Linked DNA regions of Homo sapiens. The protein of the gene in region 2 purifies or fractionates together with the protein of the main gene of each other region. This does not show direct contact. Each region holds a gene or a part of one and is shown on either strand. Other genes may lie near its edges. The genes, in order: ALDH1A3 and SMOX.

Region 1 (7,268 bases), on a different chromosome or scaffold from region 2:
ATTTGCTTCGGGGACTGGAGTCCTTGCTGTGGCGTGAGGCTGTGTCTGGCGTCTGGGAGGAGGACTGTGTGGGGTCTGGGTTCCCCAGCCCTAATGACCCAGCTGGTTGAAGGCAGCAGATGAAAGGAGACAAATGACCACGCAAACCCTGGGTGGCCTCATGAACAGGTGGCGGACAAGGGTGATCCCTGTTGAGCAAGGTCCTGCACTGCGGTGGGTCCAAGGACTAAGCTGCCAGCATTCATTTCTGACTGTCACTTACCAGCTTCCTGTGCCATTTTCTCATCTGAAAACAGCTGGACCCATCTCATGGATGGGCGTGAGGATGGTATGAAGGAACAGGCATAGAGAGCTCAACCGAGCCTGCTGCAGAGTCTGTGCTCAGCAAATCCCAGCTGTTGCCAGTACTGTTGCTGTTGGAGGGCCCAAGAGGGGACCCTGGTGACCCCAGCCCTGGCTGCCTGTCCCTGGAGGGGCAGGTGTAAGAAGTGATGAAGCAGGGGCTCACAGAACTCAAATGCAAACAGGCCACTAGAGGGAGGAAATGCAATTTCTGCAAAGGGGTTTCATGGCCAACAATTACTGATGTCCGCTGAAGGCGAAGCCAGCCACAGGGATAAGGGGGAAGGCTAATGGACAGGCTTCACTCACAAGTGCAGACGCCTTGGAGTATTTGCTGAGAGTCAGGGATGGACTACAAAGCAGGACTGAGGTGGGAGGGGGACAGGACCCCAATTCCACATAGACTGGTCAAGAACATCTGTTTGGGGATGGAAGCCAGGCCCATCCCTTCACAGCATCTTTAAGAATCTCAAAAGAGAGCCACACAAAGGCCCCAACCAAGGCCCAAGGTGAGGGGAAGCGTTTGAGTCTGTTCCCGCTGGAAGAAGTGCAAACAAGGGACTACATTTGTATATAAATAGGACAGACTAGTGAAATAAAAGGAAGAGTTTGGGTCCCTAGAGATGTCCCAGGAACCTGGGGTGTTGTCACAGATGGTTCCTTGGGAACACTGATCCTACAAAATGTTTGTCCACACAGGCTAATAAAATCCTGAGCTGGGGAGAGAAGACAGTGTCCGGCTGGAAACCACACATCTCCACTCCCGGGTTGCTCTAGCCAGCTCTGGGTGTGGGCCAGACGCAAGAAGTTCCACCCATTAATCTAAACCTAGGGAACTCATTTTCCCAGCAGGCAGGACAAAAAAGGAAGTGTGGAGGGGTTTGCACACACAGTGGAGGGGTTTGCAGTGGGTTTGCACACACACGAAGGGGTTTGCAGTGGGTTTACACACACGGAGGAGTTTGCACACACATGTGGAGGGGTTTGCAGTGGGTTTGCACACACTGGGGTTTGCAGTGGGTTCACACACTGAGGAGTTTGCACACACATGTGGAGGGGTTTGCAGTGGGTTTGCACACACAGTGGAGGGGTTTCCAGTGGGTTTGCACACACACAAAGGGGTTTGCAGTGGGTTTACATGCACACGTGGAGGGTTTGCAGTGGGTTTACACACACGGAGGAGTTTGCAGTGGGTTCACACACTGAGGAGTTTGCACACACATGTGGAGGGGTTTGCAGTGGGTTTGCACACACACGGAGGGGTTTGCAGTGGGTTTACATGCACACGTGGAGGGTTTGCAGTGGGTTTACACACACGGAGGAGTTTGCAGTGGGTTCACACACTGAGGAGTTTGCACACACATGTGGAGGGGTTTGCAGTGGGTTTGCACACGCACGGAGGGGTTTGCAGTGGGTTTACATGCACGCGTGGAGGGTTTGCAGTGGGTTTGCACGCGCATGGAGGGGTTTGCAGTGGGTTTGCACACGCATGTGGAGGGATTTGCAGTAGGCTTGCATATACTGAGAGGGCCGCAGAGGCCCAGCAGGAGGTGTTGTCATATGCCTCCTGGGAGGAGGTCCCCTACTAGGCTCAGAAAAAAGGACCCAGCAGGTAGGAGCCTTACCTGGGTCAGCCTTACCTGTCTTCACTGCTGTGAGTGGGGAGTTGTGTGAATAATGACACCCCACATCTGGCAAAAGTACACTTTTTCAGTTCTGCCTGTGTCCCCGTCCAGGGAGCTTTTGTCAAATATCCACTGAATGTCCCCAGCATGATGGCTGCTGGGCAGACACAAAAGCCGAGGCCTGGAGGGGGGCAGGCTGAGGATGTAAGTGGGAAGGGTGGGCTGGAGAGAGGAAGGGATGGGTCCCCACCAACCCTAGAGGGACACAGCTGGCCCAGACAGAGCGGCGGTGTGGGGGGGACGGGGTGTCAGCAGATTGGAGCCTGTGTCACTGCCTGCAAATCTAGTGGATCTAGTGTTCAGCCCACGGCAGGCTCAGAATGATGGAAACACTTACAGTTCTCTGCCATTTCCTGACATTTTAAAGCCACCAAATGGAGCCTGTGCATAGAGGGCGTTGTAGCAGTTGATCCTAGAAAAGAATGGAAGAAAGCTCAGAGTCATCTGGAGAAGACCCCCTGGCTCCTGGCACTGCAGCCACTTAGCCCCCAGTGCAGGGCATTGTCTAATAAACAGTCTTTTGCCAAAGCTTCCTTGATGAAAACACAGGGTGCTCTCAACTTTTGTCTTCTCATTCTTCTCATCAGCAACTAAAATTTGGAAATCCTCAAGTACAGAGTGTGTTTCATTGGGATAGGAATGAAATGATAAGGGGAGAAAAAAGAAGAGAGGGCCAGGCATGATGACTTATGCCTGTAATCCCAGCACTTCGGGAGGCTGAGATGGATGGATCACCTGAGGTCAGGAGTTCAAGACTAGCCTGACCAACATGGTGAAACCCCATCTCTACTAAAAATACAAAAATTAGCTGGGCGTGGTGGCGTGCACCTGTAGTCCCAGCTACTGGGGAGGCTGAGGCAGGAGAATTGCTTGAACCTGGGAGGTGGAGGTTGCAGTGAGCCGAGAGTGTGCCACTGCACTCCTGCCTGGGGGAAAGAGCAAGACTCCATCTCAAAAAAAAAAAAAAAAAAAAAAGAAAGAAAGAAAGAAAAAGAAAAATCAGGGTGTAGAGGAATAAGAATTAGCTTTGAAATGAGACAGAACTGACCCCAAAGTTCTCCTGCTTCCTGGTTATATGATTCTGGGCTTATTGCTCAACCTCTCTGAGCCTCAATTCATTAATCTTTAATATGGGGATCACAAAACATAATCTGCAGAATTACTGATGAGGCAGAGACTAGTATCCACATTTTGCAGATGGGCATGAACTGCTTTTAGAATCAGAATGGAAAATAAAGTTGGAGGGGCAGTACAGCACAGGGGCCACAGGCACAGGTACTGGAGCCCTCTCGGCCATCTGCTAGCTGTGTGACCCTGGGCAAGTCACTTCATCTCTCTGTGCCTCAATTTTCTCATCTCTGAAATGGAGACATAATGGCAGCTACCTCAGAAGATGGTCATGAGGATGGAAGGAAGCACTGAGACAGGGCTTGGTATATAATATACAATGTAAACAATGAGAAACTCTCAGTTAATAGAAGAATAATGAACTTAGCAAGAAGCAACTCAGGAGAGCTGAAATACACACACAGTCAACTCACCAGACCGTTCCAGACTCTAAGGCAGAAGCCAACTTCAGGGCTTTGTCGAGATTTTTTGTGAACACGGCTGCTGTGAGTCCATAGTCGGTGCTATTCGCTCTTTTTATCACTTCTTCGATACTTTTGAACTTCAGTATTGGTTGCACTGGCCCGAAAATCTATGATTAATTGCAAGAATGGCAATGAGAGGCATGACTGAATGGAAATGCATGCTGTGAACAAGCATTTCCTTCTCTTTACATGTTTTTCATATGCCCAGAGCACACACATGCCTGAAAAACGATGATTAGAGAAGAAAGAACGTCCAAACATTGCTTCAGCTGCATTGCCATTGGAGACTGAAGGGAAGGATTAACATGAAACAAAAATAAAAAATAATAACAAAAAATATATGTTGTGTTTAAGATGTCTTGTTGTCATCAGGGTTTCCGAGAAACCCAGCCAGAGAGCCTTGGAGTAACCCATAGATGCACAGAACACAAAACCTTTAGGTAACTTTTTTCGGAGTTGTCCTGAAGGATATCTGCAGGCACTTTGTAAGACTGTGCTCCTACCTCTTGGAGCTGTGTTTTCTACCAAGGAAGACACCCTAGAACGTTTCCATAATAACTACCAGGGGAAGGAATGACACAATATTCACCACAGTTTGTGACACAGCAAAGAAAAGGAAATGGAAGAACTAAGGCTTGAACATTTAAAGGTGATTTTGAAGGGAGCTTGTAATTGATTCAATATTAGACATAATTATAAGCCGGCAGGATGGTGCCTGGCCTGCCAAAATACCTTCCGGGTTCCCCAGGACCTCTCGTCACAGGGATGTTTAAGGAGCTGAGCTTCATGCCATCACGGCACATAACAATCTCAAGGAAGACGCCTCTGAAATACCTGCCCCAGAAAGCCCTTGGCAGGGACTCATCCTTTTATGTGCCCCAAAATACCACCTCCAGGGTCTAACCTCCTGGGATCCAGCTCTCCTCTTACAAATGCTGTGTGGGAACCAGTTCCCGTCTAGTGTAACAGTGGAGTTGAAAGAGAAAGATTTACACTCTTATGGGAGTGGGGGAGTCTCCTTAATTTCCCTCATTTTCAAGACGTCCGTGGTGGAAAATGTCAATAAAAATTCCAGCTGTGACATGTTCCTTGAGTGAACACTTGAAATTCAGTCTAGGGGCACTGAAGGCGGCTTTGGGCCCTGAATCCACAGGTTCTTGAACTGATTCCTGGCAAAACCCACAGGTGGCAACAGTTCTCCACCTGCGGCTGCATGACTGACTCGGGGACCGGTTGTGTTAGAAAATCAGAGAGGGCTTGCTGCTCCCAGAGAGGGTGAGCCATGAGTGAAAACTAGCTAGAACAAACAAGGTACCTGCTGTATCATGCTTGGAGTTCGCCAGAGGCAGGACAAAACGGCTTCCCTAGGGACCCCAAAGGAGAGGGGAAAGACCACACAGAAAAAACAACAACGACAACAACAGCAACAAAAACAAAAAAACACTCAGATCACAAGGATTTCTGGGATCCCTGGGCCCTAGGGAAGGACTCGTGTTTGAAAGGCCCCGCAAGTCGTAGCCTTGCCACAGCCCCCTTGTACCTCCTCTTTGGCAATCCGCATGTTGTCTGTGACTTCTGAGAAGACAGTGGGTTTGATGAAGAGCCCCTTGTCTTCCATGGCTGAGCCCCCGCATTCCAGCTTGGCCCCTTCCTTCTTCCCACTCTCGATCAGCTCTAAGATTTTGTCGAACTGCTTTTGATCAATCTGCAAGACACAAACAAGAAGTACAGCCTGGCTTCCTTCTGGGCAGTGGCTGCCATCTCATGTTTTCAGTGGCCTTCAACATGATCAGCCATCCTCCCTCTGCATGTTCTTGTCAAGCCATGATCCATGTAACTAATGAGCCTTGCAGGCAAATATTCCTCTGATGCACAGAGCTGGGCTCTTTGGAGCAGGGGAGAGATGGGGAGATAGACTAGTCTCATCCTCTGGAGGTTTGGGACATATTTACACTTCTATCTCCCTTTTCCATGCAGCAAAGTTAGTCCATGAGTGACACAGGTCTGAAGTGGTCACAGTCTTTCTTCTCCCAACTCTTTACATTCTACTCAGGTTGCCAAATTTAGCAAATAAAAATACGGGATGCCCAGTGAATCTGAATTTCAGAAAAATGACACATAATTTTTTTTAGTATGTCCCAAAACAATATTTGGGATATACTTAAGCTAAAAGTGCATTTACTGTTTATCTGAAATTCATGTTTACCTGGGTGCCATGTATCACCTGGCAACCCTGTGCCCTGCTCAGTTGGCACCGTGAATCAGGGTAATAGTTACTGGAATTCTCCTGTCATGGTGCAGAGAAGCGAGAAGAAAAGCTAACCACCTTACTCAACACCCCTGGGGACAAAGCAGAATGAGCCTCCAGGTGGGGTGGCAGGGCTGCTCCTTGGTTGGTGGTGGGAACAGCTCATGAGAAAGACTCTCCCTTTTGCTATCTTGTCTAGACGTCTCCTTGGCTGGAGTTTGCCCTGTGCCACCAGCCTGACCCACAGCTTGTGAACACGCTACTGAGCAGTTGTCAAAAGCGCACCCTTTTGGGAGACTGCTCAAGAGGGAAAATGCTCTTTCTGCCCCCTCCACTGGTCCTTCTTCCTGAAATCTATGGGAATCTTGTCCTTTATCATGATCTGTGGCTGGTCTCCCTCCTCTTTGGCTGGGAGAGACAAAGCTTTACTAGGTTTACTTTAGCTGGGATTTTTAGATGGGAAAACTGGTTTCATTCCAATGATCATAAACAGAAAAAGAAGCAAACCCAGTGGTGCAATTGGATGACGGTCTGTCCTGGAGGAGCAGGAGAGAGGGCATAAACCGTGCATGCCACTTGACCAATCATCTCATGAAATATGGACCCAGTTTAAAAATACTAACTCAGATCCATACCTCACACTTTATACCAGGCCAAACTCCAAACCCAGTTTAAAAATACTGACTCAGATCCATACCTCACACCTTATACCAGGCCAAACTCCAAACCCAGTTTAAAAATACTAACTCAGATCCATACCTCACACCTTATACCAGGCCAAACTCCAAACCCAGTTTAAAAATACTAACTCAGATCCATACCTCACACTTTATACCAGGCCAAACTCCAAATAGATCAAAGATATAACCAGGAAAAACAAAACCATAAAAGTTTTATATGTGGGAGACTTATCCTGCAAACTTGGAGTGCCTTCTAATGACTCAAAATGCAGAAGCCAAAAAAGAAAAGATGTATAATTTTGAGTATGTAAAAAAAATGGGGTGGGGGCAAAATTATCATAACAAAGAGCAAAACAACAAACTTGGAAAAAATATTAACAAGTCATATTCATAGAAAGCTAATCTCTCTACTATGTATGTAAAGAGGTCTTAGAAGTGATAAGAAAAATGCCTAACAGCTTGCAAGAAAAATACGCAAAGCACATTTGATAATAAAGGAAATACAAACGGTTTTTAAATATATAATAAGATGTTCTACCTTGCTTATTATAAGCGGTAGATGCATATTAAAATGAAACAAGATAGCATTTTTAACTCTCCTATGGGCAAAAATCCATATTCTGTTGGAAAGGGTAAAGAAACAGACAAACTTCTAGAATGTTAGTAGGAATACACGTTGGTTCAGCCTCTATGGAAGGTAATTCAGCAACACTTAAGGAAA
Region 2 (7,268 bases):
GTAATTAATCGTAGCACCTGACTTATTTTCTATATTATATTTATCACAGTTCACAACCATTTGTTACAATTGTTTGTATACTTGACTTATCTGGCTTCTTAAGGGCCGGAACCTTGACTGAATGGACCAGTGCTGTATCTGGAGCATCTAGCACAGTGCCTGGCATGTAGCTGATGCCCAGGAAATCTTCAGCCAGGTGGCAGGTTGGGGCTGGATTGGGCAGAGAGGTGGGTATTGCAGTGAGCACAGGAGTCCTCTTTAAACTTCAAGTGACCCTGAGGATTTTTATTTTCTTTCCACAAAAGCAACTGTGCAGATTGCTGCAAGAATCTAAGGGCGCCAATGGGATGTGAAAAAGGGAAGTGGAGAAGGTATGCGTGGCTGGAGGGCAGGGCTGTATGCCGAGGGCAGCCGGTGGGATGTGAGTCTGTGTGTGTGTCACTGTGGTTGGGGTAAATGATTTCCTTTGCTTTCTTTGGTAGAAATGCAAGCTGGGTCAGCAGAGGGATATGTGTGCATGTTGGGTGGGAGGGAGATTCTCTAGCTCACAAGATGTGGGCAGCCTGGGCAGCCAGGGATTGATTTCAGCCCACTCTCTTGGGTGACTGCTGGGTACCCAGCCCTGGGGTGGTCTCTCTCTATCTCTAGACTCTTGCCTTTCTACCCACAGCTCTCCTGTTTGCACAGAGGAGCCAGTTGAGTGTTAAATTGTGTGGCTGGTACTCTCAGAATGGAAGGCTGAGAGCCAGGGGACCTCAGATCTGGGAGGGAGGGGAGCTGACCCCTGGACAGGGGGACAGGGGTGGACTGAGGTAACACCGCGACGTGGGTGCTAGAACTAGGGGCAGTGGTCCAGATCTGGGATGGGGCTGGCATGCCTAGGAAAGACCTTGAGCTGGGATAGGTAGGGATGAGGAGGGCATCCTGGGTGGGAGGAATCAAGCAGAGGCCAAGAGGCAGGGCAGGGCCCTGGTATATTCACTGCATGCCCTGCATTGTTCTAAGCACTTTGCAAATGTTAACTCCTTTAATGCTCTTAACAGCTCTATAAGGTAGGTCTTATTCCCATTTTACAGCTGGGAAGACTGAGGCACAGTCATACAGCTAAATAGTGACAGAATGAGGATTGAATCCAAACATTTTACAGACGGGAGGACTGAGTCATAGTCATACAACTAAATAATAACAGAGTAAGGATTGAATCCAAACAACTTGGCTCCAGAATCCATGCTTGAAATCGGTCCACTCTGCCACTTCTCTCATGCCTCTCAGTTATGTGTCAGCCGAGGGCTTCCTAAGAAGAGGCTTTTCCTGCCTCCCAGAGGTGCCTGGCCTTAGGGGCTGGGGAGGTGGGAAAGAAGGTAGAAGGGGTCCTCGCTTGGAGTGGGTGACCGAATTTTTCTGCTTCATGCCCCACTTTTTCTTCCAGGAGGGGCTCCGGACCCAGGCCAATGGGTTGGGCATCACGTACACTGTGATTTTGGGGTGCTGGGAAGGTCTGCTGCTTCTGGTTCAGCTACCGCTTTCTGCCTGAGATGCCATCATTAGAATGTCACCCTTCTGGGTTTAGCATTGCCCTCGTCATCTGCCTGTAAAATGGGATTAGAGGGACTTTTTTTCTTTGCTCCCTGGAGGTCACATGCTTGAGTGCCTTCTCCTTGTAGACTCTGAAAGGAGGAAAGGCTTCCCCTGGGATGCCAGGCTGAGGAACTGGGCCAGGAAGGAGGGAGGAGGGTGTGTCAGCTCTGCCCTGGGAGGCTTTCCTGTTTGGCACGAGGATGACTCTAGGCAGGTGACCTGGCCTCCCAGGGACCTGGCTGGCTGGCTGAGGAACGGTTTGCTGACCACACAGGGATGGGGTCTGTTTTCTCTGAATTCTGAGCCCCAGAGTTGAGGGGATCTGCTCATCTATCTGGACAGATCCTGCCAGCCTCCTAGGAAGAGAGGGAGGCAGGGTTAGTGGAAACTGAGGCACAGGGAAAACATTGCTGTTGGAAGCTCACCAGCCTTCATGGTTGTCAGGAAGGGCTCCCTTCTCTGGCAGGGGAGCATGGGGGAGGCCTGTCCACGGTGCCCAAGTCCTTGTCTGCTGAGTCGAAGTGAAGGCTGTGGCCAAGCCTGAGGCGGGCAGGCTAGAGCTGAGGTGGACTTCCTGACAAGTAGACACTGGGCCTTGTTAGCTGTGGTCAGCACCTGGCATCTCCTGTGCCCCAGCCTGGTGTTCAGAGCCTTTGGGAACACAGGACACGGTTCCTGCTCTCCAGGAAATAAACGTGAGCCATGCCAGGTGTGATATAATGAGGTCCTCCTCCCAGAGGAGGTGGTGCTTTGGGAGGGTTCTGAAATCTTGGGCGGCTTTGGCCGACAGAGGAGAGGATGGCCTTCCTAAGGTGGAGGAGGAGAAGTGGGTTGAAGCCAGGTTGGGAAAGGCCTTGGCTGCCAAGCTGCTGAGTCTGGCCTTGATTCAGTAGACCCTGGGGAGCCTTTGAAGGTTATAGGGCATGGGGGCAATTACTTGATTAGGGCAGTGGTCTATAAAAGTGCTTTTCAAACTTGAATGCACATAGATCACCTAGGCAGCTTGTTAAAATGCATGTCTGTCCTGTCTGATTCACCAGGTCTGGGGTGAGGCCTGTGACTCCGCATTTCTTTCTTTCTTTCTTTCTTTTTTTGAGACGGAGTCTTGCTCTGTTGTCCAAGCTGGAGTGCAGTGACAGGATCTCGGCTCACTGCAACCTTCGCCTCCTGGATTTAAACAATTCTCCTGCCTCAGCCTTCTGAGTAGCAGTAGCTGGGATTACAGGTGCCCACCACCATCTTTAGTAGAGACAGGGTTTCACCATATTGGTCAGGCTGGTCTCGAACTCCTGGCTTCAAGTGACCCACCTGCCTCAGCCTCCCAAAGTGTTGGGATTACAGGCATGAACCACTGTGCCTGGCCTGAGACTGCATTTTTAATAAGCTCCTTGGCAGTGCAATGCTGCTGCTCCATGGAGCACGCTTTGTATAGCAAGGATTTAGACTGGAGTCTTGAGGGACGAGTGCAGTTCAGGTGGGTGGAACAGGGAACTAACTACCTTGGCTCCTGAGGCTCCTGTGTTGCGGGATGTGTAGGGAGCTGCCGGGGTAGGGGGTGGGGGTGGTGCAGGTGGGCTGGGGGCAGGACAGAGGGGACTGTAGAAGATGTGAGATGCAGGGGCCACTCTGCTGGGAGCTGGGGCTGTGTGAGGGCCTCTGGGTGCTTGGGTCATAGACCAGGAACATAGGTCTGATTTCCAGGGCCTCTGACTGTAAGGAGCTCCCAAGACCACGAGGGGGTATCTTGGGTGACTGTATCCCGGGGCAGGGTGACATGCAGACAGCACGGAGGGCACCTTATCTCTGTCCACAGCCGAGCCTGGCACTGTGGGCAACCAATCTGGGGTGAGCACCCTTCCTCCAGCCAGGGCGGGGCCGAGAGATTGGGGAAACAGCTGATCCGGCCCTCTAGCTCCAGCTGTGACGTGTCCTCATAGAAGACGGTAGTCTCCCCAGCTGCCGGGCCATCACCCCAGCGTGTGCAGTGCCTGTCACCCTGGCCCAAGTCCTTGTTGCTGCCGCTGATGGTTACGTGAGCTGCTGTCACTGATGGTTACATGAGCTGCTGTCGGGGGTCTTATCCCACTCTGGCCACCTCTGCGGCGTACGTGGGAGTGGGGGGGGCCTGGATGCTTCTCTCTGCTCTGCCCTGGCTGGGCCACTACAGGCAAGTGTCTGCTCCTCTCTGAGGTGTCAGTCTCCTCATCTGTAAACTGAGGGGTTCAGGTCCCTCCAGGGGGGTTATCACACGGTTTGCTGGGTGGGGCATTGCCTCTTCCCAGAGAGTCAGCTTAACACATTTTAGTTTAATATTAAATATTAAAGTTAATATTAAAACTCACATGCTAATGATGGGGTCGAATTAGCAATTTGCTTGGAAAAAACCATCCGGGTTGTTTTGGGGGTCTCCCAAGGCCCCTTGCACCTCAGGCTCTACATGGCCTGGGGTGCGTATCTGAGGACACTGGTGGGTTGAGTCCCCCCAGTTGCTGGAAGCGGGGTAGCAGTCACTACACCCAAAAGAAGGTACAGAGGGCAGACACAAAGGGCAAAGGTTCCACTGCCCTGGGCAGTGCCATGAGGGGCTGGCAGGGTAGGGGTTGACTGGCTCTCAGTCTGAGCTCCCCAGATATCCCACACACACCTCCTCAAAGGAGGGCAAGGCCAAGCCAATCACACCCCACTTTGATCCCTGCCCCTGGGCCAGGCCGTCCTGCGGGATGGGAGGGGATAACATTTCTCAAAGACTGTTCTGCGCAATCTCAAGCGTTCAGGGGACAAATAAGGGTAGAAACTGGCAAATTCACTCCACTACCCTACGGGAGATTCAGAATACATTTAAGAGAATTAAAGGTCCTGACAAGTCCTGTAGAAAAGAAACTGTTTAGTGTTTCCCAGCCTGATCTGACCGTGGAAATCTTTTTTTTAAATGACTGCCAATAATGTCCCACCCACCAGGAAAACACCTGCTGGGAAAAGCTGATGTGGAAAGATGCTGCTCACTGGAAGGCCACGAACATGGTAGCACAGGTGGACTTCCTGGTAGAGGTAGACTTGGTGGGATGGGCACATTTGGACAATCAGTAGAAGAAGAGGGCACTGCAGAGAGAGAGATGCCAGGCTCCCCTCTGAGGCCTCAGTTTCTTCATCTGTAAATCTTTGCCCCCCATGTCTGCCTCCCCACCTTCCTTTGGGTGTAGCAACTGCTACCCCCCTGCCAGTGCCTGGTGGGACCTCAACTGACCAGGGCCCTCAGATGTGCCCATCCCACCTCTACCAGGAAGCTCCCTGCCATCCTTCCTTTTCTCCCTGGTATTTCTGGGCCGAGAGCCAGCCCTGGGTTCTTGTGGCAATGGCTCTGCCTCACTGGGTGAATGAGGAAGGATCTGGAAGGACCTGTCTGGTGCCTGGGATCCCCAGGTAGCTGGGCCTGGGTCTTCTGGATTCTTTTTCTTTTTTTTGAGATGGAGCCTCACTCTGTCACGCAGGCTGGAGTGCAGTGGCGCAATCTCAGCTCATTGCAACCTCCACCTCCTGGGTTCAAGCAATTCTCTTGCCTCAGCCTCCCGAGTAGCTGGGATTACAGGCGCTCACCACCACGCCCTGCTAATTTTTGTGTTTTTAGTAGAGGTGGGGTTTCACCGTGTTGCCCAGGCTGGTCTGGAACTCCTGGCCTCAGGTGATCTGCTCACCTTGGCCTCCCAAAGTGCTAGGATTACAGATGTGAGCCGCTGTGCCCGGCCATCTTCTGGATTCTGAGAGGGCCTTTTCCTTATACCTCCCGGGCATTTCCTCGCTTTGCAAGTTCTCCCCAGCCTTTCATCTCAGAGGTTAACACAGCAGGGTTGTGAACTCTGGACAATAAGCTAAGCCTCTCTGTGCCTCCGTTCCCTCATTTGTACCATGAGGGTAATATTACCTCCCTCCTAGGGTGGCTGGGTTGTTGTGACACTCTAATACCGGTTGGCTGCTCTTACTACTGGATTTGACATGGCTGGAGGAGGGACCCTGGGGAGGGCCCTGTCATCGTGGACATGAGGGAAGAAAGCAAGAGCCAGCAGAAAGCGGCACAAGGCTTAGGTTGGGGTCCTGGTTAGACCAGAGTAGCCTGCAGAGGAGAAGAAAGAGGGTGTGGGTAGCTAGCAGGACTGGCTTCCTGGAGGAATGGCCAGTTAGGTGGGGAGATCTGGACAGAATGAGAAGTCACAGGTTTGAGTCTGAGAGTCAGAGGATCCTGGTGGGTGTGTGTAGGGGACAAGTGGCCTGCGGGCAGGGAGGAGGCATCAGGGACTACCTTCGTTCACTGGGCTGTGGCAGCCCACAGAAGGTTTTGAGCAGGGCAGTGATGTGATCAGAGCAGTGCATTAGTGAGACATGAGGCAGGGTGTGAGTGATGGTGGGCTGTGGGAGGGGGCGGTGCTGTGCCCCTTCATGGACATGAAGCTGGGGGAGGGGCCAAGTTGCGGACGTGACCCTCATTCTCAGACTCTCAGGGCAGTCAGTGAGGCTACCCTGCCTCGCCTCTGCCACACCTCCTTTCCTCTGTGGTGTGAGGCTCTTTGTTCAGCAGCTCAGGTGGGGGAGATGGGCTGTGGTATTTTTTATTTTTTATTTTTTTTGAGTTGGAGTCTCGCTCTGTCGCCCAGGCTGGAGTGCAGCGGCGCGATCTCGGCTCACTGCAACCTCCGCCTCCCGGGTTCACGCCATTCTCCTGCCTCAGCCTCCCGAGTAGCTGGGACTACAGGCGCCCGCCACCACGCCCGGCTAATTTTTTGTATTTTTAGTAGAGATGGTGTTTCACCTTGTTAGCCAGGATGGTCTCGATCTCCTGACCTCGTGATCCGCCCGCCTTGGCCTCCCAAAGTGCTGGGATGACAGGTGTGAGCCACAGCGCCGGTCGGGGTGTGGTATTTTAAATACCCAGGAGGAGCTACGGTGGTGCGTGGGGCAACATTGGCCCTCCGACCTGACCCGAAGGCCCTGGTGGGGCATGCTCAGTGGATTTTCCTACCCAGCCCTAGCTCCCCTCTCTTGTCCTCCTTTGCCCCTTTGTCTTTCTTCCTCAAGCATGTAGGAGCCCAGTGCTCTCTAAATCTGGGGCTGGGAGGTTGGAGGATGAGGAAAAGCATCTGGATTCAGGTGGAGCATGGTGGCCTAGCTGGGGGCATTGCAGCACCCCTTAGTCCAGATTCCCTTCTTCTCCACCTGCTTCTTGAGGGACGGCATTAAGGAAGGTGTGACTTAAAGTCAGAAGAACAAGAACTTGGAAGTGAGTTGCAATTTATTAGAAAACAGAACAAAGAATCTAGCCACCCCTGCCAACTCTGTGCTAGGCCCTGGCAGACACATGGGTCCTGTCTTCCCCATGCAGCCCCGGGGGCCTGAGTGAGGCATGATGGGTCTCACTCAGTTTCTGGGACATCTGTCTCGATGCCCTTTCGTCAACCCCATGGCTCTCTCAGAGCCTGTCCTCATACCTTCAACTGCTCCCCACCCATAACCAGATCTCCGGGACAGCCCAGCTCAGCCAGCGCACCTCTGATCCTGGCGGGTGGTGGTGATACTCCTTGCAGGCTGAGTTGGCTAGATTTTAGGATGACTCAAGCAGGAGACACCCAGCACCACCAAGGGGCATATATTCTTAGGAAATATTTTTAAATGATGCCTTTAAATGTTAAACACACAGGGAC

What was found.
Region 1: the proteins of SMOX (region 2) and ALDH1A3 purify together in Homo sapiens (affinity purification with mass spectrometry; 2 studies listed by BioGRID and IntAct, with this or other methods). This does not show direct contact.

Annotation. Positions count from the first base shown.
Region 1 is NC_000015.10:100,903,579-100,910,846, reverse strand, and holds part of ALDH1A3 (retinaldehyde dehydrogenase 3), read right to left. Parts: intron 5,325-7,268; coding exon 5,160-5,324; intron 3,727-5,159; coding exon 3,569-3,726; intron 2,440-3,568; coding exon 2,365-2,439; intron 1-2,364. UniProt on the Homo sapiens protein: Catalyzes the NAD-dependent oxidation of aldehyde substrates, such as all-trans-retinal and all-trans-13,14-dihydroretinal, to their corresponding carboxylic acids, all-trans-retinoate and all-trans-13,14-dihydroretinoate, respectively.
Region 2 is NC_000020.11:4,151,722-4,158,989, forward strand, and holds part of SMOX (spermine oxidase), read left to right. Parts: intron 1-3,494; exon of another isoform or gene 3,495-3,745; intron 3,746-6,841; exon of another isoform or gene 6,842-7,268. UniProt on the Homo sapiens protein: Flavoenzyme which catalyzes the oxidation of spermine to spermidine. Can also use N(1)-acetylspermine and spermidine as substrates, with different affinity depending on the isoform (isozyme) and on the experimental conditions.